2 linked regions of the Homo sapiens genome follow. The protein of the gene in region 2 interacts with the protein of the main gene of each other region in a pairwise test. Each region holds a gene or a part of one and is shown on either strand. Other genes may lie near its edges.

Region 1 (17,227 bases), on a different chromosome or scaffold from region 2:
TATAGTCTTCAGTATTTAGTAACAATCCTTTACTTCTGTGATTTGAAACTGGCAAATGTGTAAATGAAAGCTTTTTAAAAGAAATTTGGGGGTTGGGTGCGGTGGCTCACTCCTGTAATCCCAGCACTTTGGGTGGCCGAGGCGGGTGGATCACGAGGTCAGGAGATCGAGACCATCCTGGCCAACACGGTGAAACCCCGTCTCTACTAAAAATACAAAAAAAATTAGCTGGGCATAGTGGCAGGTGCCTGTAGTCCCAGCTACTGGGGAGGCTGAGGCAGGAGAATGGCGTGAACCCGGGAGGCGGAGGTTGCAGTGAGCCGAGATCGCACCACTGCACTGCAGCCTGGGCAAAAGAGTGAGAATCTGTCTCAAAAAAAAAAAAAAAAAAGAAAAAAGAAATTTGGGGTAGGTGGGAAAGCTGATCTGAATTAAGGGCATTTAAAGAAATCTATAATAGGAACTTTGCCTGTATTTGGCAATTTGCACTTTTAATAAGATTTATTTGTAATGATACATGGCACTTATGAAAGTTTCCTTCCAAAGGACTTGAAAGTGTGTTTCCCTAAGTAGGGTATGTATTTGCCTCTGATATCTACACTATTCAATTTTATTGGCAGGCTTTTCTCACTTCCTCTAGGACATGTAGAGGTAAACTTTATGTCAGTCACTAGGGGGTCTTAATTACTCCAGACTCTAAATTAGTGCCATCTGAGGAATTGTAGTTTTGCTGCATTCAAAACGTTCTTGGATTCCAAACAAGCTTTCCCCACTTTGTTTTTAATTTTTTAATTAAGATGAAGTCTCACTCTGTCACCCAGGCTGGAGTGCAGTGGCGCGAACTTGGCTCACTGCAGCCTCTGCCTCCCAGGTTCAAGTGATTCTCCTGCCTCAGCCTCCCAAGTAGCTGGGGTCACAGGTGCCTGCCACCATGCCCAGCTAATTTTGTATTTTCAGTAGAGATGGGGTTTCACCATGTTGGCAAGGCTGGTCTTGAATTCCTGGCCTCATGTGATCTGCTTGCCTCAATTTCCCAAAGTGCTGGGATTACAGGCGTGAGCCACCATACCCAGAAACTTTCCCCTCTTTGAAGACACATTAATTATTTCTTAAAGAAAAGCAAACTATACAACTCAGAGTTATAAAAGAACACTTAAAACAGACATGTCATTTTGCTGGATGCTGAGTTATGACTTAATCAACTTTTCTGAATTCAGGTAATATAAAAGTCTCAATTTTTTTAGATGAGGCAAGATTTTATAAAATTCTAGTTTGGAGGAATATACATTTAAGAGAGGCTAAGAAATATAAAAATTAAAGTAATGAGGGGAAATTGGCCTTATTAGATATACCATGAGTATTAAAGCTACAATAAGATAAAGGCAATAGGATTATAATAGGATAAACCTAGAGCAAAGGCAGAACCGAAGAACAGCCACATATGTAAAAGAAAGGTCAAAAGGAGTCATCCAAAATTAATGAGAAGATATGTAGCGTTAAGTTGGTTGGCTAGCTATTTGGGACTGGGGCATGGAGATCAGTTTGGCTCAGGCCACATAAACTTGGCATTCATTATGGTAGAGGAGAGTGAAATGTATAAAAAGACAAAAGTAGACTACGCGATCTCAGCTCACTGCAACCTCCACCTCCTAGGTTCAAGCGATTCTCCTGCCTCAGCCTCCTGAGTAGCTGGGATTACAGGCGCTTGCCACTATGCCCAGCTAATTTTTTTTTTGTATTTTTAGTAGAGACAGGGTTTCACCATGTTGGCCAGGCTCATCTTGAACTCCTGACCTCATAATTCGCCTGCCTCGGCCTCCCGAAGTGCTAGGATTACAGGCGTGAGCCACCGCGCCCGGTCATAAAATAGCAACTTTCTGTAGGTGGGGCACAGTGGCTCACACCTGTAGTCCCAGCACTTTGAGAGGCCAAGGCAGGTAGATCACTTGAGGCCAGAGGTTCGAGACCAGCCTAGCCAATTTGGCAAAACCCCATCTCTTCGAAAAATACAAAACATTAGCTGGGCATGGTGGCATGTGCCTGTAGTCTCAGCTACTCAGGAGGCCGAGGCAGGAGAATCACTTGAACGCTGGAGGTGGAGGTTGCAGTGAGCTGAGATCGCGCCGCCATAGTCCAGCCTGGGCAACAGAGTGAGACTCTGTCTCAAAAACAAAAACAAACAAACAAACAACAATATATATAGCAACCTTCTGTAGAATGACATAGAAAAGAGTCTGAACCATTCCCTCAAGTAGTTTTAAAAAGTGCTATTTATGCAAAAATTATTTAAAAAAAAGCCAACAGGAAAAAATAACAAATATAGCAAAGAATAATTTGTCTTTAATAGTATTATAGTAAACTCAAATCCCGAGAAAATACAAGCTAAGTAGACAAAAGGATAAGTTATGTCATGTACATATTATTTACAAGAGACAAAATGCTATTTATTGGATGTGTTGAAAAATGGTCGATTTCTGTCTCTGATTACCGGTGGGGTTAAAGTAGTGAGATAATTTTTACATATACAGTTAAAGTTTTCTTTGGTACCATTTTGTTTGGAATGCTGCCAAGCATTTGGTAAAAGATATTTAGATACATTGCATTTAAGACCATGTGATACAGAACTATGTCATATATCCCTTTAAAACAATTGGGCGATTTGTTCTAAGAACAAAATGGACATAGCCTTAAACGAAAGTCCCATTTCTGAGTGTCCACACTAATATCATAATTGTCTACAGGTAAAAGCAGCCAAATGTCTGCCCTTCATAAGTAGCAAACAAAGAAGGAACATTTACCTATCTAGCAATGGGACAATACGTTTGATTCAATAACATGTTAGAATGGGTTCAGCAAAGGTAGGTCTGCTGGCTAAAGCCATCCTGCTGCCTGATTTTGTTAGCCTATGAGCTAAGAATGGTTTTTATCTTTTTCAGCAGTTGGGGAAAAAATATTACATAACACACATAAATTATGTCACGATATGAAATTCACATTTCAGAGCCCATTCCTTTATATAATGTAACATTCAGAGCTGCTTTCACACTACGATGGCAGTGCTCAGTAATTGTGACAGACCCTGTGGCTCACAAAGCTTAAAATATTTAGTATTTGGCCCTTTCCAGAAAAGAGTTTGTTAACCCCTGTGTTAGGACCTTGTGTGGCCATTAAAAGCCTTTATGAAGAGTTTGTAACAGTAAGTTTAAGCCATATATGTTATCATGGATAATTCTGTAAAAAAATCAGGATGTAAAGATGAAATACTTAATAAAATGACATAAAAACATGAAAAAAATGTTGTTTTAGGTACTGGGACCTATGGGTGATGTTATTCCTTTCTTATTTTTCATTCCAGGTATTCTGTATAACAAGAATTACTTTACCATGGTGAACAAAGGTATTTAAAAGAATAAGCAAAGCACATGCATAGCAATTACATTTTATGAGTCAGAAAATAATCTTAGCACTTACCTGTCAACACAACTTTTCCAGATACAAAGATAAGCAACACAATTCGTGGTTTTACCATTCTATAAATAAGACCAGGAAACAGTTCAGGCTCGTAACTGTTAAGATGTAAAAGGAAAATGTTAAAAATAGCACTATTCAGCTCCTTTCCCATAACATGTAAGGCCCAGTATATTAAAGTGCATATTAAAGCAGTTGTAAATAAGTTAGCTATTTTATCAAAAACTTTTTAACTATCTTGATGAAGAGTCTTGAGTGTCCTAGGTAATATCTTATGGAAGTTAGGAACATAATTAATTTTGGGTCATAACACAAGTGCAAGCTATCCTGGATGGTTATTAGAAATCAAGGTAACTTAGGGCATCTGATTTAGTGTATTGAGAGCTTGTTGGTTAAACATCCTCTATCTTTTCAAAAAAGTCTGTTAATAAGAATACATAATCATGTTTTTCTGGGTTTCCAAATTCTCCAATAATAAACATATTTTGTATGCTTTTACGAACTGCTGAAGTTAACATTTTTAGCAGATAGAACCTAAAAATATTTCTAGGCCACTGCTATTTGTATTTGAACAGGTGCTATATAAATAAAGAAAATCCAATTATCCCGAGTTTTTACAATTCAGGATTTGTTGCTATAAATAGTAACTCATATTTACTACTAAATATAAGCTGGCCACTCCATGGAGCGAAAGATGATAGCACTTAAGAGCTTCTTCTCCACACTCCAGCCTGGAGAGGAGGGCAGATTCTTAGAAAGGCTTGAGGAACCTACCAAAAAGAAGTCAGGAAGTGAGAGGAGGTGAATAAAACTATTCTCAAAGCAGTGGCTAATGGACAAGAAATATAAGAAAAAAAGACATCCAAGCAATGGAACACTAGCATCTTTGCACTTAAAGGGTGAATCCAGACTGCATGGAAAAGCTCCATTCAGTTCAGCAATGAACAAGACCCAAAAACAACAGCAGATGTGGAACCTTTTACTGGCTCCAGAAAGGCGCATCTTGAAGTGAGTCTTGCCCATCTCAAGTATAGGAGGTCATTGTGGGTGGAACTGTCTTCTGGAACATCACTCTGTCTTACTGCAGGGAGCCTGTCAAGACTTTCTCCCACTAACCACTTCCCAACACTGGGGAGACCATGACACTAGGGGGAGCCCTGAAAAACCCTCCAGGGCTATGAGATCCAGGCCAAGAAAATGAAGGCTGGAGACACAAAAAGAAGATTTCCATTTGATCTTCCAGCTAAATTTTAAGACTTAGAAAAGAGAAAACAAAAACTTTGGTATGTAAATGATATTGAACTGCATTTAGCTTTTAGAACCATGGTTTTAAGATTACCAGTATAATGTGCTCCCAATTAGGAATATACTTCATTTTATTTATTCTCTGCCTCATTCCAAAAGAAGGCTGAGGCAGAGAAAGAGAGTGGTTTTGGTTAGGGATGGAGAACATTTCACAAAGATTGAGAATATCGAACACCTGCCAATTTCTTGGCCAACCCAACTTTGACCCATCCTTCAAGTCTCATTTTAAATGTTACTTCCCCAAGAAAATCTTCCTTGATCTCTACCCACCCCCAATTACATTAAAGACCCTGCTTTATGGTCTCATAGCCCCTGAAGGGCCTTACCTTCACAGTCACCATGTTTCATTACTGTCATTGACTTGTCCATCTTTTCTTTTAGACAGTGATCTCTATGTGGGCAAGGGACTATAGCTATATTGCTTGCCATTATCATCCTAGCATCTGCTACATGGTAGTCACCTAGATCTTATTCATATAGCAAGTATTTATATCAGGATACCTTTGAATTAAAAATTAAAGAGGGGGCCGGGTGCGGTGGCTCACACCTGTAATCCTAGTACTTGGGAAGTCGAGGTGGGTGGATCGCCTGAGGTCAGGAGTTCAAGACCAGCCTGGCCAATATGGTAAAACCTCGTCTCTACTAAAAATACAAAAATTAGCCGGGTGTGGTGGTGGGTGCCTATAATACCAGCTACTCAGGAGGCTGAGGCAGGAGAATCACTTGAACCCTGGGGGGTGGAGGTTGCAGTGAGCTGAAATCATGCCACTTCACTCCAGCCTGGGCAAAAGAGCAAAACTCCATCTCAAAAAAAAAAAATAAATAAATAAAATAAAGAGGGAAAAATTCTCATTGACAACTGTGGAAATGATTATGTCATAGAAAGATTACCAGAGAAAGTGCCTGGTAACAAAAGGAGATACTTGTATTATTAAATGTTGACATACAAATTTGCAGAACCTGGGAAACTGAATGACCTTAGGGGTTTAACACAAGGCAAATTTGGCCTGATAATTATAACTGATTATGTAGCATGGTTCCCCACAGAGCTACAGACAATTAGAGAGGCCTCATGTTAAAAATTCAAATCTTCTAAGAGGTGTTTTTAATGTTCCCAGTGTCAAGAATACACACTCTGGAGTTGTAATCCATAACCTGAGGCTGACAGCCGAATGGAGAGGATGAGGGGGAGGCAAGAATGAGACTAGAAATAGAAAGTTGTGGGAATACAAAGCAAGCTTCCTGGCCAGATTAAAAAAAAAAAAAGAAAAGAAAAGAAAAGATGACTGAGATCATAAAACTGTCCCAGGAGGAAGATAGAACAGGGATGGGCCCACTCCGTCTGATGTATTCTCACTGCGCCTTACTGGCAACCCTTCCAGAAGCTGGTAGTAATAACAAGGGGCACCTATTCTAGACTTAGATCTGCTCTGCAAGGAAGATGCTGGTGAAAAAGAAATGAATGGACACTTGGGAAGAACCACACACATCATTTTCGAGCCCTGAATGGCCAGAAGGGAATGCTAAGTCTAATGTAGACACAACCTTAGAGTTCGGGCAGAGCTCTTGCAGATGTACACTAAGCCGATTCAGAGAAAGATAGGCTGGAGGCTCGTGACTTGAGAGTCTGGAAGATAAGACAACTTAAGCACTGGGAGACTCTTAGAAACAGGCTTTATTAGGAAATCTGCAAATTATGCCAAGATTGAAGGAAGAAAGATACCTAAAGAGGCAACATGTCTTACATGGGGGAATGGGAGGACTTTATAGGGAGCTCAGATTTTTAAAAAATGGGGTATATTTAGGCATTCAATAGCATACAGTGAAAAAACTGAAGAAAAAAGAAAACATAATCAAGAGAAAAATAAACATGTCAAAAGAAAAATAAGCATATCATAAAAGCTGAATCTCAGAATGAATGAAAATATTTTAGAAGAAAAAGGAATTTTTAACTTCCATTCAGATCATATCTGAAAGGAAAGCTAACAAATGTTAGGGAAAGCACAGCAATATGATCCCTATCTACTCTATTGACGGGATAATCATTCGATGGCCAAGAGAAGATAAGGCGTTGGAATGAAAGAACTTCAGTTCCAGCTTGGCCAAGAGAATTTAAGAGCATCTGTGATTAACCCAGGCCAAGTGCCCTAGCCCAGGTGTATATCTTGGTGAGTCAAGGGGTTTGGTGTCCATGAGTCACCCTCCATCCCTGCTCTCTGAGGGCCTGGGATGGGAGAGCCACCAAAACGGCTGGGGGCGGGGGAGGAGCACTAGCTGTTGAGACGGGAAGTCTGAAGTCAGGAAGGCTAGAGATATTCCCTAGGAAAAGGAATATACTACAGGCAACATTGTGTTGCGGGCTGCAGCTATATACACACACACACACACACACAGATAGGGGACAAACTAGTTAGGATTGCTTTTTTTTTTTTTTTTTTGAGACGGAGTCTGGCTGTGGCCCGGGCTGGAGTGCAGTGGCGCGATCTCTCACTGCAAGCTCCGTCTCCCGGGTTCACGCCATTCTCCTGCCTCAGCCTCCCAGGATTGCTTTCATAGAACGTGCTACAGCATTCTTTTTTCATCTTCTCCCCAATCCATTCTCCCCTCACCAGCTGTCAAGCCCCTTCCTACCGGCCTAGTCCATTTCACATGCCTTATCTTTTTTTTTTTTTTTTTTTTTTTTTTTTGAGACGGAGTCTCGCTCTGTCGCCCAGGCTGGAGTCCAGTGGCGCGAGGTCGGCTCACTGCAAGCTCCACCTCCTGGGTTCTGGCCATTCTTCTGCCTCAGCCTCCCGAGTAGCTGGGACTACAGGCGCCCGCTGCCACGCCCGGCTAATTTTTTGTATTTTTAGTAGAGACAGGGTTTCACCGTGTTAGCCAGGATGGTCTCGATCTCCTGACCTCGTGATCCGCCTGCCTCGGCCTCCCAACACATGCCTTATCTTGCCAGTGTCATTGCCAAGCTACGTTTGTATGCTTACAAATCTGTAGATTACTGGATCTCAATGTGTGGGCCTCTGACCAGTAGCACTGTCATCACCTTTGAGCTTTTTAGAAACACAAATTCTAGCAAAATCTCTGGTGAAGAAACCCAGCCAGAGATGTGTGCTTTAATAAGCTAAGTGATTGCTAAGCAATGTAAGTTTAAGAACCATGGTTTCAAAAGACTGGGCACATGTGGTAACCTATGAGAACTCAGGCATAGCATCTTAATCTTTTCACTATTGTGTCCCCCGCCTTTTTTTTTTTAATCACAATTTCTCTGAAAGATACTTTACGTAAGCAACCCATAATGTAACTTAAATATCTTGGTAAATTCAAAGTTCAAGCTATATAACCGTCATACCTACTGAACTGCTGATGGGTTAGCACCAAACCTTCCAGCCTGATGGGAAATCTCACATCACAGCTTCCAACCATGTTCTGAATTTTAAAATCGAGGAATCTGGCAGGGAACCCAAGCTTCTGCACCACACGAGCATATTTTCTTGCTGCAAGTCGAGACTGCTCTTCACTGGGGAGGGGCAAATATGTTTAAAGATGTCTTAATCGCTACATCCTCTCAACTACTGGTGTTGTATTGGATTGTTACCATTTGTACCACGTTTATCTTTCAATGTATACTATGAAGCTGTAGGCTTTGTGAGGAGGACTTACTTCCCATACTTTCGTCCCTAGCACCTTATAAAAGGTCTTGTAAAATTGTACAGCTGTTGAACAGAATCATAAATTTTTGTCTTCATTTGTCACCTTTCATATATGAAGTACTTTTACTTTTACTTGGGTGTTATTTGCTAAAACGATTCCAAGGATTCGCAAAGTGTGTCCCCAGACCAGCAGCTTCACCTGGGAACTTGTTAGAAATGCAAAGTCCCAGGTTCCACCTCAGACATGCAGAAACTCTGGGGGTGGGGCCGAGCAATCTGTCTTTTAACAAGCCCTCTAGGTAACTGTGCTGCTCACTGCAGTTTGGGAACCATTCATCCAGTCTCAAAGTATGTCCCATTTAGAAGAGAACAATGGCTGGGCACAGTGGCTCACGCCTGTAATCCCAGCACTTTGGGAGGCTGAGGCAGGCAGCTCACCTGAGGACAGTAGCTCGAGACCGGCCTGGCCAACATGATGAAACGCTGTCTCTACTAAAAATACAAAAAAATTAGCTGGACATGGTGGCGGGCACCTGTAATCCCAGCTACTCAGGAGGCTGAGGCAGGAGAATCACTTGAACCTGGGAGGCAGAGGTTGCAGTGAGCTGAGATCGCGCCATTGCACTCCAGCCTAGGCAACAAGAGTGAAACTCCGTCTCAAAAAAAAAAAAAAAAAAAAAAAGAAAACAACAAGAAAAAATAAGGACACATGCATACAAAAAAAAATCGCATATAAGGAGGTAAGATATGTGCTGATTGAGTGGCACAGACAAGGTATCAGTTCTTGAGTCTTTATTGGACACACTGTCCAAAACAACCACATGAAAATACCTCAAAACCCCCCTTGTTTTGCTCGGCTTTCTCACCCAATCTTCAATTCAATTCAAACTCAACACAAGAAGGACAGGAATTTGTCCTACTCTGTGGCTATGTCCTTTAAGTGTCTGTCCTGCTGCACCCCTAAATTCATAGCAGAGCCTGTGGAGTCCTGAGAGGTGAGGCTTCATTTCTCCTTAGGTATTTTTCAACTGTTAGTGACAAAACAAAACAGTAGGTAGCAACACCTGCAGGGTGAATCAGGTGAATTCCACCCCCCTCATGGGTTTGGCCCTATTTTTAGGCTGTAAATCAGAAACACCTGAAAGAAAAGCCAGTTTGAACTTGTTTGCCTGGACTAAAGCAAGTGTTTGATTCTCTTATCCAGATCCTTCACCAACACTGCCCCCTCTTGGGTATTCGTTACTACATACATGTGTCACCTCATTTAATGTTGATTCTCCTCACCCACTTTAAAAAAAAAAAAAAAAAAAAAAAAAGAGATTGGGTTTTTGCTCTGTTACCCAGGCTGGAGTGCAGTGGCATGATCATAGCTCACTGCAGCCTTGAACTTCTGGCCTTAAGTGATCCTCCTGCCTCAGCCTCCTAAGTAGCCTGCAGGGGCATGCACCACCACACCTGCCTAAATTTTTATAGAGACAGGGTCTTGCTGTCTTGCCCAGGCTGGGCTCAAACTCCAGGACTCAAGTGACCCTCCCAACCTCAGCCTCCCCAAGTACTGAGGTTACAGGTGTGAGCCACTGCACATGGCCATCTGTTGATCTGGTATCTACTCACTAGATTGACTACAGCTGCACAGCACTGCCCTTGGCTCTCTTCACCCACTTCTCACTCTTGAAATGTCCTTAGCAAGGCCATGTCCCCAGGTTAGCAGTAAAATAAACTGTTTCCATTTTGAACTACATTTTGCCTAACTAATCTATTACATTTCCCGTAATGTAAATAAGTTCAAATTTGTTCAAGTTTGCATAGTCCTGTAGTTTCTTGGGATATCAGCTGTGATATTCTAAGGACACAGAAGTTTCTATTGAAACAACTAATAGTTGAAAGTCTATATACATGTTCATTGTACAAACATTAGAAAGTAGTTTAAAAATCTTAAAATCTCACCCATACTGGTGTTAACTACCTAAATTTGATCTTCTGCACTTTTCCTACGCAAACACAGGTATCCCTCATACTCTTGCTGTTACAACAAAAGAGAATAGGTTTGGATAAAATGTGGAGATAATACTGGCACCTCTTATTAACTAAATTCTCACAACTCACTATCCAAAACTTCAAAACCAAATATATTTGGATAAAAAGTATCTCTTATTATCTGAACTCATTATCCAAACTTTCACTATCAGATTTTAGGAATAAATTCAGATAAGAAAAGACACTCATGAATGTGTGTAATATGTGTAACATGAGCATATTTTACAATGAAAGTTGGATAACAAACACCATTTAGCTGCTTACTTCTCCCTCTGCAATCCAACTTAATACAATGTGACCATCCTTTCAGCTCAGTATGTGTACTATATGGCTAATACAATTTTACTTTATGACTTCAAATTGAAACCCTATTATTAATTAGGTTTTCCCTGTTCTATTGCTGAAATGAACATTATTACAGACATCTTGCACAACTGTCCAATAATCACTTTAAAATGGAGATTCCTGGGATCAACATAAGAGAAAGTCCAGCAATGTACTCAGACACATGTGAAGAACTTAATATGTAAAAACAGATTGGGGGAAATGTAGTAACAATGGATCCTTCAATAAATGTATCTGAGTACCGACTGATCATTTGGGAAAAATAATTATCTTACATTGAAACAAAATTCTAGATCTGCTCTGTCCAATTAATATAAATTCAGTCCCTCAGTTGTATTAGCTGTATTTCAAGTGCTCAGTAGCCACATCTGACTAGTGGCTATATCATTGCATTAAACAGTGCAGATATAGAACATTTCCATCTAGAGAAAGCTCTAAGTGAATCAAAATACCAGCTATCCTTTTCCTATCACAAAGCAGGACCTGAAAAAGACCAAAAAATATATGAAAGTCAATATTTGTATAATACTGTGCACAAATGCCTTAAGGGCAAAGCCAAATGTAGAAAACAAAGAAAAAAATGGGATAAAATGAGTATACCCTTCAAAATTTGTGTTTTTTAAAAAACCCACCATAGGCCAGATGTAGTAGCTCACGCCTGTAATCCCAGCACTTTGGGAGACCAAGGTGGGAGGACTACTTGAGCCCAGGAGTTCGAGACCAGCCTGGGCAATATGGGGAAACCCCCGTCTCTACAAAAAAAAAAAAAAAAAATTAGCCAGGCCTGGTGGTGCATACCTGTGGTCCCAGCTACTTAAGAGGCCGAGCTGGAAGGATGGCTCCAGCCCGGGAGGTGGAGGTTGCAGTGAGCCCAGATCACACCACTGCACTCCATCCTGGATAACACAGTGAGACCGTGTCTCAGAAAAAAAAAAACAACAAATAAACAAACAACAAAAAAAACACCATAAAATACCATAAACAGTAATCTGAGAAAAAATATTTACAGTATAAAATGGTGAAAATAGTTAACAAAACAAAAACAAAAGATAAATCTCTCCATAGATAACTGAGCAAATGACATAGCAATTTCTGCACTTCTAAAAAGTTATTTAATCTCACTAGTAAATCAAAGAAATGTAAAACAATGTAACTTTTTGTCAATCAATTTAGCAAATATAAAAAGAATATCGACACCCAGTGTCCACAGGATAAAATGAACACTTAGTACATTTATAGAGCGAGAAATTGGCACAACTTTTCAGGAGGAGAATTTGCTTCTTATCTTTTAACACCTACAGGAGAAAACAGGCTCTGCCACTACAGAGTTATGGTGAAAGAATACCCATCAACACAGGGCTTCCTCTGCGTGAGATCCAGGAGAGATGAGATTTTTAAGGGATGCCTCCTGAGCTAATGCAAGCTAATGCTCAAGGAATGTCTAATTGAGCTCCTTTAGAAAGTTCTATCCATTTATCTGCAATGAGGAAAATCCACAATAACTACTTCCCCAGACTTATAACACACTTCATCATTACTGTAACTTAAAAAAAATTCACCTTAGAAACAAGTTGTAGCAGCGCAGTTAAGTCCCCTCGGTTTAATAGGGGAAACTGTAAAATGGGGATATGTCAGTATTTTATTATTTTTTTTAATAGAGACAGGGTCTTGCTCTGTAACTCAGACTGGACTGCAGTGGTATGATCATAGCTCATTGCAGCCTCAAACTCATGGGCTCAGGTGATCCTCCCACCTCAGCTTCCCAAGTAGCTAGGACTAGAGGCATGCACCACCACATCCAGCTACTTTTTAGATTTCTCTTTTTTTTTTTTTTTTTTTTTTTAACAGAGATGGAGTCTCACTGTGTTGCCCAGGCTGGTCTCAAACTCCTGGGCTCAAGCGATCCTCCTGCTTAGGCCTCCCAAAGTGCTGGGATTACAGATGTGAGCCACCATGCCTGGCCCAAGTCAGTATTTATAGGAGTGTTTTTAACCCAAAATGTGGCATTTCATTGAATAAAGTCTTCAGCAAAGAAAGGCATTTTGCTTCTACTATGTGCTTTAGCACATTAATTCTATGCTTCCTTGTTTTACATACTAAATTGTTTCTCTGGTAGGGGTGGAGGGATGATTCCTCATACCTTTTGGCTCCCGTGCAGACCATCTTCCCAGAGCTAAATATAAGGGCTGTTGTCCTGGGCTCTCGGATCCTCATTATGACAGCAGCAAACCTCTATACCCAGAAACCAAAAGAGAATTAGCCTCTGCTAGGAGTTAACATTATCCCAGTTGAAAAAGCCGAGCTGAATATGAAAATCTCAAACAGATTGGATGGGAAAACTAAATGTCTGGGTCTTTTCTCCCTACATTAAGGTTAACAAAAATAATGATGATTCTAAAATGTACTTATTAACAGGTAAAAATAATATCAGTAACTCTTAAATTTGAATGCCTGTTATGTTTCAGTTCCTATTTATTCTCATGATAGGATGAACTTGTGTTTATTATCCTCATTTAGTGCTCAGGGAAAACAAGTAGCAATATAACCTCCAATATTACACAGGAAGTGGTAAAGTTAAGATTCAAAACCCACACTAATCAGATTCTCTGCTTTTTACTTTGACACACTTCCTTTTTCTTTTGAAGAATCTTTTGGGAAAAAAATAAGTATGTTAAAGGCTCACCAAGACTTCAGAATGTACTGAAAAATGACCAAAATGCAGAAGAGTCTGTATGATAGGCATGCTAAAGATGAATGACAGAAAGTTGATGTCAAGGTTCTTGCCTCTTATAGTTCTCAAAGTGTCATTCAAGACCAGCAGCATCAGCAAGCCCTGCAGGTGAGGCTGACACTCGTGAGGGTAGGGAACCTCTGGCCTGCCACATGGACGTGTCATCAAATGGCCTGCTCCTACACAGATAGTCTCTTCACCCCAACTCCTCTCCCCGGTTAAGCTAGGAAGGAAACTGGGGTGGGTGCTAGCTTAAGGGCCAAGCCAGAATTTCTCTGGGTGTCAAGCACAAGTTCAGAGAGATCCTATACACTCATCCCCAGCCCTGCCCACCCCTACCCCTCGTCCAAAATGAGAGGTGTGCTGAGGATGGTGGACAATAAAAGTTGCCTAAAATGCTGATTGTTCAATAATGTGATCACAGCTGCAGCTGTGAGGATCTTAGCTCATCTTTGTGTCTGTCCTCACCATTGTCAGCTGTATGAAATATCAAAAGGAAAGCTTTATTGTATTCGGGTAACATCGAGGTAACATTTAAATTCAGATGTCAGCAACAATACTAGGGCAACAGCAAAAACAAATAATAGTTGATGCCTGCAAGGTCTCTGGGTTCCTACGAATGTGACCTTTTTTCATCTAATTCCATAAATCCTCCACCACCTAAGCCAGTGAACTTTTTCCCAGTAGGAAGCAGGTCTTACTCATCTTTGTACTCCTAAGTACAGAGCCTGGCAAATCGTTAAAAGTTGATAGGATTGACAAACCCAATTACCCTAGGTAAACAAGCCATTGAAAACAGGATGCCTGGCCTTGGCAGGATACAAGAAAGAATAGATTTTATTAAACTTTGAGGAGGACGAAAAAAAAAATCCCTGAATCTTACATTAGTAAATAGGAGCTTGAACTTTATACTTTAAGCAGTTTAGCCTTCTCAGATAAGAGGAATTGTAATGGAAAGATACATAAGTGTCAGGTAGCTGAGACAACATTTGGCAAAAATTATTTCCAGAAATTTGATGGCATTTTAAGATAGTTAGCATCCCAATAGTCAGGTGAAATTTTTTTTTTTTTTTTGGAGACGGAGTCTCGCTGTTACCCAGGCTGGAATGTAATGGCATGATCTTGGCTCACTGCAACCTCTGCCTCCTGGGTTCAAGTGATTCTCCTGCCTCAACCTCCTGAGTAGCTGGGATTACAGGCACCCGCCACAACATCCAGCTAATTTTTGTATTTTTAGTAGAGACGGGATTTCACCATGTTGGTCAGGCTGGTCTCAAACTCCTGACCTCGTGATCCACCTGCCTCAGCCTCCCAAAGTGCTGGGATTACAGGAGTGAGCCACCGTGCCCAGCCTAAGTGAAAAATTATAATCATACTAAAAAATATTTTTGAATGACAAGGGAGAGAGCTTATCTTTAAGGAACTGCTCAATTACTGCTTTATTCAGCATAAAGAATGAGATTATTTTTTATAACTCAAAACAGATATTAACCCTGAGTTGCCAAAAGCTTTTTCAGTAACAATTTTTTAAGAAAAAACAGAGGAATTAGTCAATATCATGATCATATTAAGAAAAGTAAATCTAAAGAGAAGCTAATTATTGGAAGGAATACTGAGAAATGTTACCTTTGGGTTATATTCTGCATTTTTTGCATGCAAAGCTATTTTCTTCAGATCCAACTTACAGGCCAGGTTTACAGTGGAAACTATATTCCTGAAGAAATAAGTCAGTTTAGAAACTTATATCAGATATAAAGAGTAAAAAAAAAAAAAGACAACTTATTTTCTCATTTCTTAGGTTATACCTTAGCAATTTCCTAGGGGGAGAATTATTCCAAATGTGAAATACATGACATGATTCCTAGTTAAGTGTAAAATCCCAAAGTGAAGTGCTAAAGAGCCTTTCCTAAAATTTCATGACTAGCTGCTAAAATTAAGTTTTAGATCTTTTTTCAAAACAATGCCTCAAAATAGAAATTACAATTCTGAATCAATTTGCAAATCAAACTCAATTTTACATCTTTATATCCTTGGTGTTTATCCAACCCTACCCACAATTTTCAGCAACTACAGTGCTGTAGTATAAACAATACAATCCTTCAAGAATGCATCTATTAATCTTTAAGTCCCCTCCGCCCACCTTAGAGGTCAAGAATTAGTGCTTTGCCTTACAGATAATCAAACTGTCTAAAGCCACAATCCATTTAGAACTGATAAAACAAAGAATTATGAAATCTGAAATTCTCTTCCCTACTATTATCCTGAAATTAGTTGTCATCGCATTCAGGAATATAAAATGTGTACCCAATGTGCTCAATTAAAACAAAAATAAAAACTTACTGTAGTTGAGGTACAATTCCACAACATTCTGAAATAGGGGTCATTGGTGTCATGGGAGTTATGGATGCCAGAGACAAGGAGTCGGAGTTTGGTTTCTCAGGAGAGGGCTGGACTGAGTCAGTATCACCAGGGTGCAGCTGTGAATGGGAATTTGACAAACTGCTGCTGTTTAAGCCCAGCCCAACGTCCTGTTCGCTGGGTGATGGCAACCTACTTTGTGGACTTTGGCTTTCAGAATTTTCTTCAGTTTCGTGTTTGCTAATGACAGGCTGGTCTTTATTTTCCTGGGTAACTTCATCTGGTAGGAAGCTAAGATCCACAGATGAGAAATCACCAGATGTTTCTTTGACTTCAGGGTTCGAATTAAATGCAGTATCCGGATTGGATGCATTCAGTATGTACATATCATAAGGTACAACTGGGCTGAACAGGGGAGACCTGGGTGGGGCAAGGCCATCCTAGGCAGTTCCCAAAACAGACAGACAAAAACACAACAGACAGAACAGCATGTTACACAAAAGGGATGTCACTATGGCAGGCAGGCAGGCAATGTATTCAGTGTAAGAGGCAGTTCAAGATTGCTTGTATTCATGCACTGCTTTTTTCTAGAAAATGCCATTAAGATTCTACTACAGGCCAGATGTGGTAGCTCACGCCTGTAATCCCAGCACTTTGGAAGGCTGAGGCAGGCGGATGGCTGGAGGCTAGGAGTTTTGAGACTAGCCTGGCCAATGTGGTGAAACCACGTCTCTACTAAAAATGCAAAAATTAGCAGAGCATGGTAGTGCCTGCCTGTAATCCCAGCTACTGGGGAGGCTGAGGCATGAGAATCTCTTGAACCTGGGAGGCAGAGGTTGCAGTGAGTCGAGATCATGCTACTGCACTCCAGCCTGGGTATCAGAGCGAGACTCCATCTAAAAAATGATTCTATTACAGTTACAGCACACTTAATGGAAACAGAAAAGAATATTTTAAAATGCAGAAAAAGCATTCTTCATAAACTATCTTAGCTACTTTGGTTAGATCTCTAGTAAGTTGCCACTCTCTAAGTCCAATTTTGCAATAGAGGCAATTGAGCAACCATGCTCTAAATTGTTGTATACTTTGAAGAGAACAGATATACTGTATTATTTAAGTTAATTATAAACTTTAGTTGACTTTACTTTGAAATAATTTTGAGTTTTAAATGTAAATAGAATAAATGAAGGAAGTTTAAGATATAGTTGAATGCTAATCAAGACTCACTAAAGACCCATGGTTATTCCTTCTAGGCAAAGGCGTAATAAGAATTCTTGTAATGTTCTAGTTAGAAGAATTTACACTAGGAAAAAAGTTATTGAAACTTAAATGGTAA
Region 2 (7,000 bases):
ATTCCTAGGGAATTGGGCACATATCTGTGTGTACTGATTTCCTCAGTCATAAACTCACCAAGACAAGGAATAAAGTATTTGTGTAGAGGGAGTGAGGCGGAAGAATATCATGGCACATACATGTATGCCCACACCCACCCACACCCTATTTCCAGATAATCTGAAATAAATAATTGTGACGGCATTGAGAGAACAACGCTCCTACAGCCCTCTCTCTGTTCATGCCTGGTCCTTATAGAGTTGATTGAGTTGGGATTATCCCAACATTTGGAGGACAGTATCTACCCAAGCAATGCTTGTGGGCATAGTGACTTAACCCTTAGAGATTAAAAAAAAAAAAATGCTGTACAACTAAAAAGATTATCAGTATAAGAAAAATATTTAAATATGTAATATGTGATTCATTTTCATATAATTTTATTCTTGAGGTTGGCCATTCTGCCCTGACTATATCCTTGTCAAGGTGGAACTTATTTGAATATTATGCTTAGGTTTCCCTGCATATATCTAGGCAAGTTGATCTAAAACAGCTTAGAAATTATTGGTAGAAAAGACAGATATTTATTGATAGAACTGCTGCCAGACAGATACCATTTCAAAGGTTCTATTTTACACAATATTTTGATATTTTCCTGGTCAATCTTCAGTATCAAGTAGATTTTTTTAAACTCCTATGTCAAGAATCTGGTAATAACTACACAAAATATGGGCCTTGTGAAGAAATCCTATTATGTGTGTTTCTAAAAACTAACATATAAACATCAACCTCAAGATTTTACAGTGAGAAAGAATGAGGGAGTAACAAGATAAAGCTGAAGACTCTTTTCAAAACACAAAAGCTGCAGGTATTGTGGCACTTACACTCTATCTTCTACTTCTCCATGATATATTTCCAAGTTGTATAATTGTACAGTTGTATAATTTTATAAAGTACTGAATGCTAATAGTCAAAAGAATAGTCACTGTAAAGTACTTGGAAATTACAAGCATGAAAAATGAAAAACACTGGGTTGCATGTTGCAGTAAGTTTTTATAAATATACTTCTCCAACATTTCCACTGCTAGATATGATTGAATTTTATAGTGAGAACAGTCAACCTCAGGGTTCAGGGGTACAATGTACACTATTGAGTATAATGGGCTGATGGTTACACTAAAAACCCAGACTTCACCACTATACAATATATCCACGTAACAAAACTACTACAAAAATTTGTTTAATAAAAATAAAATGGAGATTAATCATGCCAATATTTGACAGTTAAAATGAGTGCAATCATATACATGTGCCACACCAGTCTGCTAATATACCACTCTGCATATAACAGGAGATGGACATCATAGAAGTCTTCCATCCTGTCTATCCACAAACTATTCAATGCAGTACTTCTCTAGAAGACCAGCCACCACTCAGAACAAAAATGAAAGTGTTGGAGTAGTGGCTAGACACCTACCCCATAAGGCAGCACACAGAATCTCAGAGTTAAACCTCTTCTTGTATTTACGAATCTCCGGGGTGTCACTCTGTGGCCTAGTGTTGGTAGGATTCACATTGACCACTGAGCCTTTCCGGGTAGGATCTTGCCTTATGGCTTCTGGTCTCATCCCATCACAGGAAAATCCCACTGAAACACAATATATTTGAAATTATTTTCTGTACACACACACACTATGCCTGCCTCCCTTCCCCAGTATACTTCAAGTAAATATTCATGTGGTATAACCAACACTTTGTCAAAGAGAAGAAATCTGTAAGCAATGTATATGGAAAAAGGAAATGGACTCTGCATCTCATTGCAAATAAGGCATACAACTGGGATGGGAAGTTTCTGTACCCGAGGTCTGTGCCTGTGAACAACCAGCTACACCTAAGCCACCCAAAAGAGCAACTCAAAGATAAAGTCCCATTTGTCAGCTGCTTTCTTGTTGCTACTGTACTTACCCACAGATGTCACTGTTGTTCCGCTAGATGGAGAAATCTGTAGTAATCTGGGGTCTATAAAAGGTGTAAAGGAGGAGGAAGATTTGTGTTTCTGGAGTGTGCTACTAGCGGACTGAGTCTGCAATGTAAATTTCAATGTTATTAATACAACTGGCATTTTAAAAATGAACATTAAAAATACACATTTCAATTCACTTCTATATTGCACTATTTCCCAATACTTTGCTCTATTTGCCTTGCATCATTCCCCCAAAAAATGCTCTGCGGGGAGCTTCCACGTGGCATAGCACCCCTCAGGGCAGCTTTACCTGGAACCACTGCAGGAGCCGTATCTCTACCAGAGACATTGCTCACTTACAAAGCAGTGCTGCAAGCTACCAATGAAATCTAGACTTCATGTGCCTAGCTTTAAAAAAAAATTAAGTAAATACTTATAATGAAACTCCTAAAGGAGGTCTGAAATGTCTTGATCTCAATTCACCAACTTCTGAATTTATTCTCCTACCCAAGAGTCCAAATAATCTATGCTGGAATATTGGCAATTGTTAATAATTGTAGTTATTTTAAATTGAGCCTCTTGCCAGAAAGCTACAGAAGCTTTGGCTACTGTTGTTTTAGGTGCATCACCATTAAACCCATACCAAATGAGGACTCATTAGTGAAAGGTGCAAATGACAAAAGAAGGCGTATCTTTTTGATCTTTTAGGAGCACTAGTGTTTTGGTTAATAATGTAACTTAAGACAAAAAAACACAAAGGAAGTGAAACAAATTGTTAAGTGGAAATGTAATGACAATTAAAAACAAAACAAACAGAAAAATAAATTTGCCGGTTTAGTGAGTTAAGGGTTATAGTAAAATACTGCACATTAGAGCGAAATGGAGCAAAGTTTAAAATATAAATATAAGGAAGAATGTGAGTGTAGGTGGGATATATACCTCAGGAGAAAAAAGGAACATGTCTGATCAAGTGCTTTTGTCCTGTACCATTGGACCCCCTCCATGGACACCTGAGGGTCACCATGTCCTAGAGCCCATGCCCTCCCCTAAGCTTCCCACCTGAACATCTGTCCCCTGGCAGCTTCCCTCCCTGTCCCATGAGTCAGGAGCCAGTCTAGCCGATGCCAAGCCTGTCTAGGAAGCAGTTGACTTGCCACTGCTCCTCCGGAGGAGAGGATTTTTCTGATTCTTTCTAACCTCCCTCAACTGGTAGATAAAGACACTTAAACCAAATCTTCTGTGGAATCAAATCACTTGTTTAATTCAATACGGGTGCTCAAGTGGGCTATGTCACTACACCTGGAGTATAACCCTGTTCAAAGAGCAAAGAATCACCCAGACTGAGCTAACACCCAGACCGAGCACCACAACCAAGCCTTCAAAGGAGCACACAGATTTCCCACACAAAATTTTAAATTAAAAACAAGCTCAAACCTTTGTCCTTCTTGCTTAACATCCTAATTTTTTCTAGGTTTCCCAAAAATAATTTGGCTTCTAAACCTCTGAGTGATTGTAAATGTCAAAGAACAAACTCCTTAACAGGGTTGGTGAAAACAAGTAAGAGTAATCAGCCAACAACCCACCCCCCAAACAAGAAAAAAAAAAAAAATCAGTTCTGTTTGAAAGAGATTCCTGTACAGGATAATAAGTTTGTCCAGATAAGGCCAAGCCTGCTGAACCGAATCTTCCTATATTTTATTTATTGGATAAAAAGAATGAAAAAGGCAGATTCCACAAATGACTATAAGAATTTCATGCCAAATACATAATACCGGTCTGAGGACAGAGCAATCATTTTATTTAGATTTTTAAAAAATAAACTAGATAAAGCCATGCAACTATACTTATCTACAGAACAGTAAACAGTGAACTGGCAAGTTTGGGGGAGCTGATCTAGGGTTAAGGGGTTTATATGCAGATCTGAAACATGTTACTTGGGGTTGGGGAGAAGGGTAGGTGACAGAGAAAGCAGGGTGGGAAGGGAAGGGGTGAGGGTGTTGGAAAGGTCTCCTTTGCAAACTAACTCCTAGGCAGTGCTGGTCTAACCCCAGGAAAGCAGCCAGCTGTGGTGCGAGACATACCTCATTAGCAGTGAGCTTGTCCTGGGGTGTCTGTGGGGACATGGTGGGTGTCGGCTGGCTGGAGGATGGGGAGGAGGAGGTGGAGGAAGTGGAGGAGGAATGGCTTTGCTGTAAGAGATCTGGCAAGAGGTGAATGCGACCGGCAAAGCCATTGCTCTCATGATGGCTGGCACGCTTTTGGTCAACTGTACTCTGTAGAAAAAACAGGCACACTTGTCTCGCTCAAGCGCTGCTAAAATTGCCTATGGCCCTATTGATAACTGCTTTAAGGTGCTGTGTGACTTATAAACTCTGCTAAATTACCAAGGAAAAACCAAAGAAATTAGCCTGAACTGCTCACACTTCCTCACCAAATGCCTAACTTGTGCCAACAGAATTCAAAGTACCTAATCTGGTGGCTGCACGGCTCGAGCAGTGAGTGTTTAATCTGGTTTATCTGTTGCGCTAGCTTCTGTTACCAAAACCAGTATCCTTTTTTTTTTCTTTTTAAATCTTTCTTTGCAAAGCTCCAGAAAGTACCTGTGGATTCTCTGAATCCTGGTCTTTTCCACATTCTTCCTACTTTCCATCCGAATGCATTGCCATAGCATGAAACACACTTAGGGCAAAGTCCAAAATACTAAATAGGTGCCCTGTTCTATTTAAATGAGAAGCGTATCACTTTAATTAAGTCTAAGCTAAGAAATGAACAGACAGTTATAAAGCTTAGTGATCCAAACTGAGCATATCTGGGTGGCACACATTTAATTATTCAACAAGTGAGAAAACTAACATTTTGGAACATAGAAGAGAAACCTCCCGAACCCTTCTGCTCTCCGAGTCTCTGGGCCTGTGATGAGGCTCGTCCTGCCTGCCTCACCCGCTCCCACTGTGGCACTGCAGACACTCAGAGCCCAGCGTGCTCTGCAGAGCCATGGTGGCTGCTCTGCCAGACTCCAGACCTGCTTCCTCACTCTGTGAGCCTGTTTAAGGACTCCCTGTGGCTTCTCTCCCGCTCAGACATAGACTGTGAGACTCAGCGCGGTGCTTGAATGAGGGCTGCCGCAGACATGCAGAGGAGCAGCGATGTGGGGTGGAGACTACTCGCTACCTTCTGGGCATGCAGTACACACCTGCCTCCCTAGCCCCCGACACTCGACACTTGACCCTCTGGGACTTGTTAACATGAAAACAGATGATGATGGAGAAACAGCATGAGTGAGTGAATGAGCAAGTGGGTTAATGACCACAGGAGAAGCTCAGCCTCTGACAACAGAGAAGACACGGGTACCTGGCGGACGATTAGAGTGCCCTCCTTGGATGGGGTCATGGCCGGCTCACTTTCTACATCATCATGGACAATCATGGTTTTCACAGATTCCGTTTCACCATTGCTCAAATTCAGAGATGACCTATGGAGAAAAAATCCAGACGTGAAAGGCCTTAATCTCTGGAGTCAAGGAGATCCTGTTTAGGCTTTTCGCCTTCTCAAAATCAAAACATGAGATGAGGCTACCGATATAAAGCCTCCTCCAAAAAAGCAACTGCTTAGCTTTCTCCCTTTAACAAAGAATTTCTTTCCAGTGCCATTTGTTTCTGAGCAAAAACTTAGAATGAATAATTATGGCTAATTAAAGTAGTTATACCAAACTGAAATTTCCCCTGGATCATATATCCTCAAATCAAAAGGAAAAAATAAAGTACACGCTGGGGTGCTGGGGGAAGCACTGACATATGCACACACCAACGAAGAGAAGGGGAAACACAAGGCGACCTGCTGCTGAATCCACGAGAACTACATAGTAAGTGCTCATGGGGTCACGGAATAGTCTAGGAACAACTAGGTCCCAGTGGAAAGCAGGCTCTGAGAGAATACTCTCATCCGCTCTAAAAGAGACCGGGGACTGACGCTGCTCTGGTGTCCTCTGGTCCTGAGGTGGACTCGTCAGCCCCTTCCTGCTCCACATCGTCGTCCTCCTCATCCGTCGTCCCCGACTCCTCACTGGATGAGGAGTAGTCCGTTACTTTGTGAGGTGGCCGTACATCTTCCACTGCTCGAAGCTCTTTGGCCAGTGCGGTCAGATCCTAAAGCAAAGGACAGAAAAGAGAGAGTAAGGCAAGCAGGAGCAGGGACAGGAGAAGATGAGAAGTTCTTTAACCATAAATTGCCACAATGTCAGTTTTGTAAGACTTTTATAGTTACCCAGTTTCATGAGAAAGTGAGCTCCTATGGCTTTTGATAGAAAAGACCAAATAAAGTCAAGAGAGAGATTAAAAAAAAAAAATAGAAGACACCAAAAAAAAGTCAAAGATGTCATATACAGTTCAAATCCCATGACAATAAAAAAAAGATCTGCTTATGTTAAGCTGATAGTATTACTGTTGTTTTTTAATATGAGGTAAAATTCTAGATCAACAAATGTATATACACAGACTCTTGGACTTTGTTGTAAGGAGATCTCCCTACATGACAAAGTCTTCTTTAGACTCATAAAAAAGGTTTTGAGAGACACATTTTTATTTTACTTCAACTTTTATTATTAAAAACTTCAAAGCGCTAAGGTTTAATATTTAATGTTTTTATTTACTAGTTATAGGATATTTATGAAATTTTAGTAATAAATATTAATATTTTACTAAAATCAACATTTTAGGTTTAATATTTTATTAATAAAAGTTGTAGAAACATAACTTCCCTCCCAAAACTCTTTAAATCAGGCTTATTTAACTAGAGGCTTGCTTTCTGGACTGACCCCTTTAAAGAAGACTTTGTCATATAGACATGTGTCTTTACACCAAAGCTCAAGGATCTGTGTATATACATTTGTTGATCTAGAATTTTACCTCATACTGAAAAAAAAAAAACTTCAAACCTACATTAAAATGAAAGGAGTGAAGTGAGCACTAGGATGCCACTGACATCTCACTTCACCGACTGTTCACAACCTGCCACATTCATGGACAAGTCTGTGACACATGAAGAGACACTGCGACCCTGAG

What was found.
Region 1: the proteins of MAP4K4 (region 2) and TBPL2 interact in a two-hybrid assay, tested with the Homo sapiens proteins (one study listed by BioGRID).

The regions. Positions count from the first base shown.
Region 1 is NC_000014.9:55,420,688-55,437,914, forward strand, and holds part of TBPL2 (TATA box-binding protein-like 2), read right to left. Parts: intron 16,332-17,227; coding exon 15,874-16,331; intron 15,248-15,873; coding exon 15,160-15,247; intron 13,035-15,159; coding exon 12,943-13,034; intron 8,288-12,942; coding exon 8,120-8,287; intron 3,567-8,119; coding exon 3,472-3,566; intron 3,398-3,471; exon of another isoform or gene 3,356-3,397; intron 1-3,355. UniProt on the Homo sapiens protein: Transcription factor required in complex with TAF3 for the differentiation of myoblasts into myocytes. The complex replaces TFIID at specific promoters at an early stage in the differentiation process.
Region 2 is NC_000002.12:101,868,707-101,875,706, reverse strand, and holds part of MAP4K4 (mitogen-activated protein kinase kinase kinase kinase 4), read right to left. Parts: intron 6,086-7,000; coding exon 5,910-6,085; intron 5,413-5,909; coding exon 5,292-5,412; intron 4,214-5,291; coding exon 4,022-4,213; intron 2,061-4,021; coding exon 1,943-2,060; intron 1,626-1,942; coding exon 1,455-1,625; intron 1-1,454.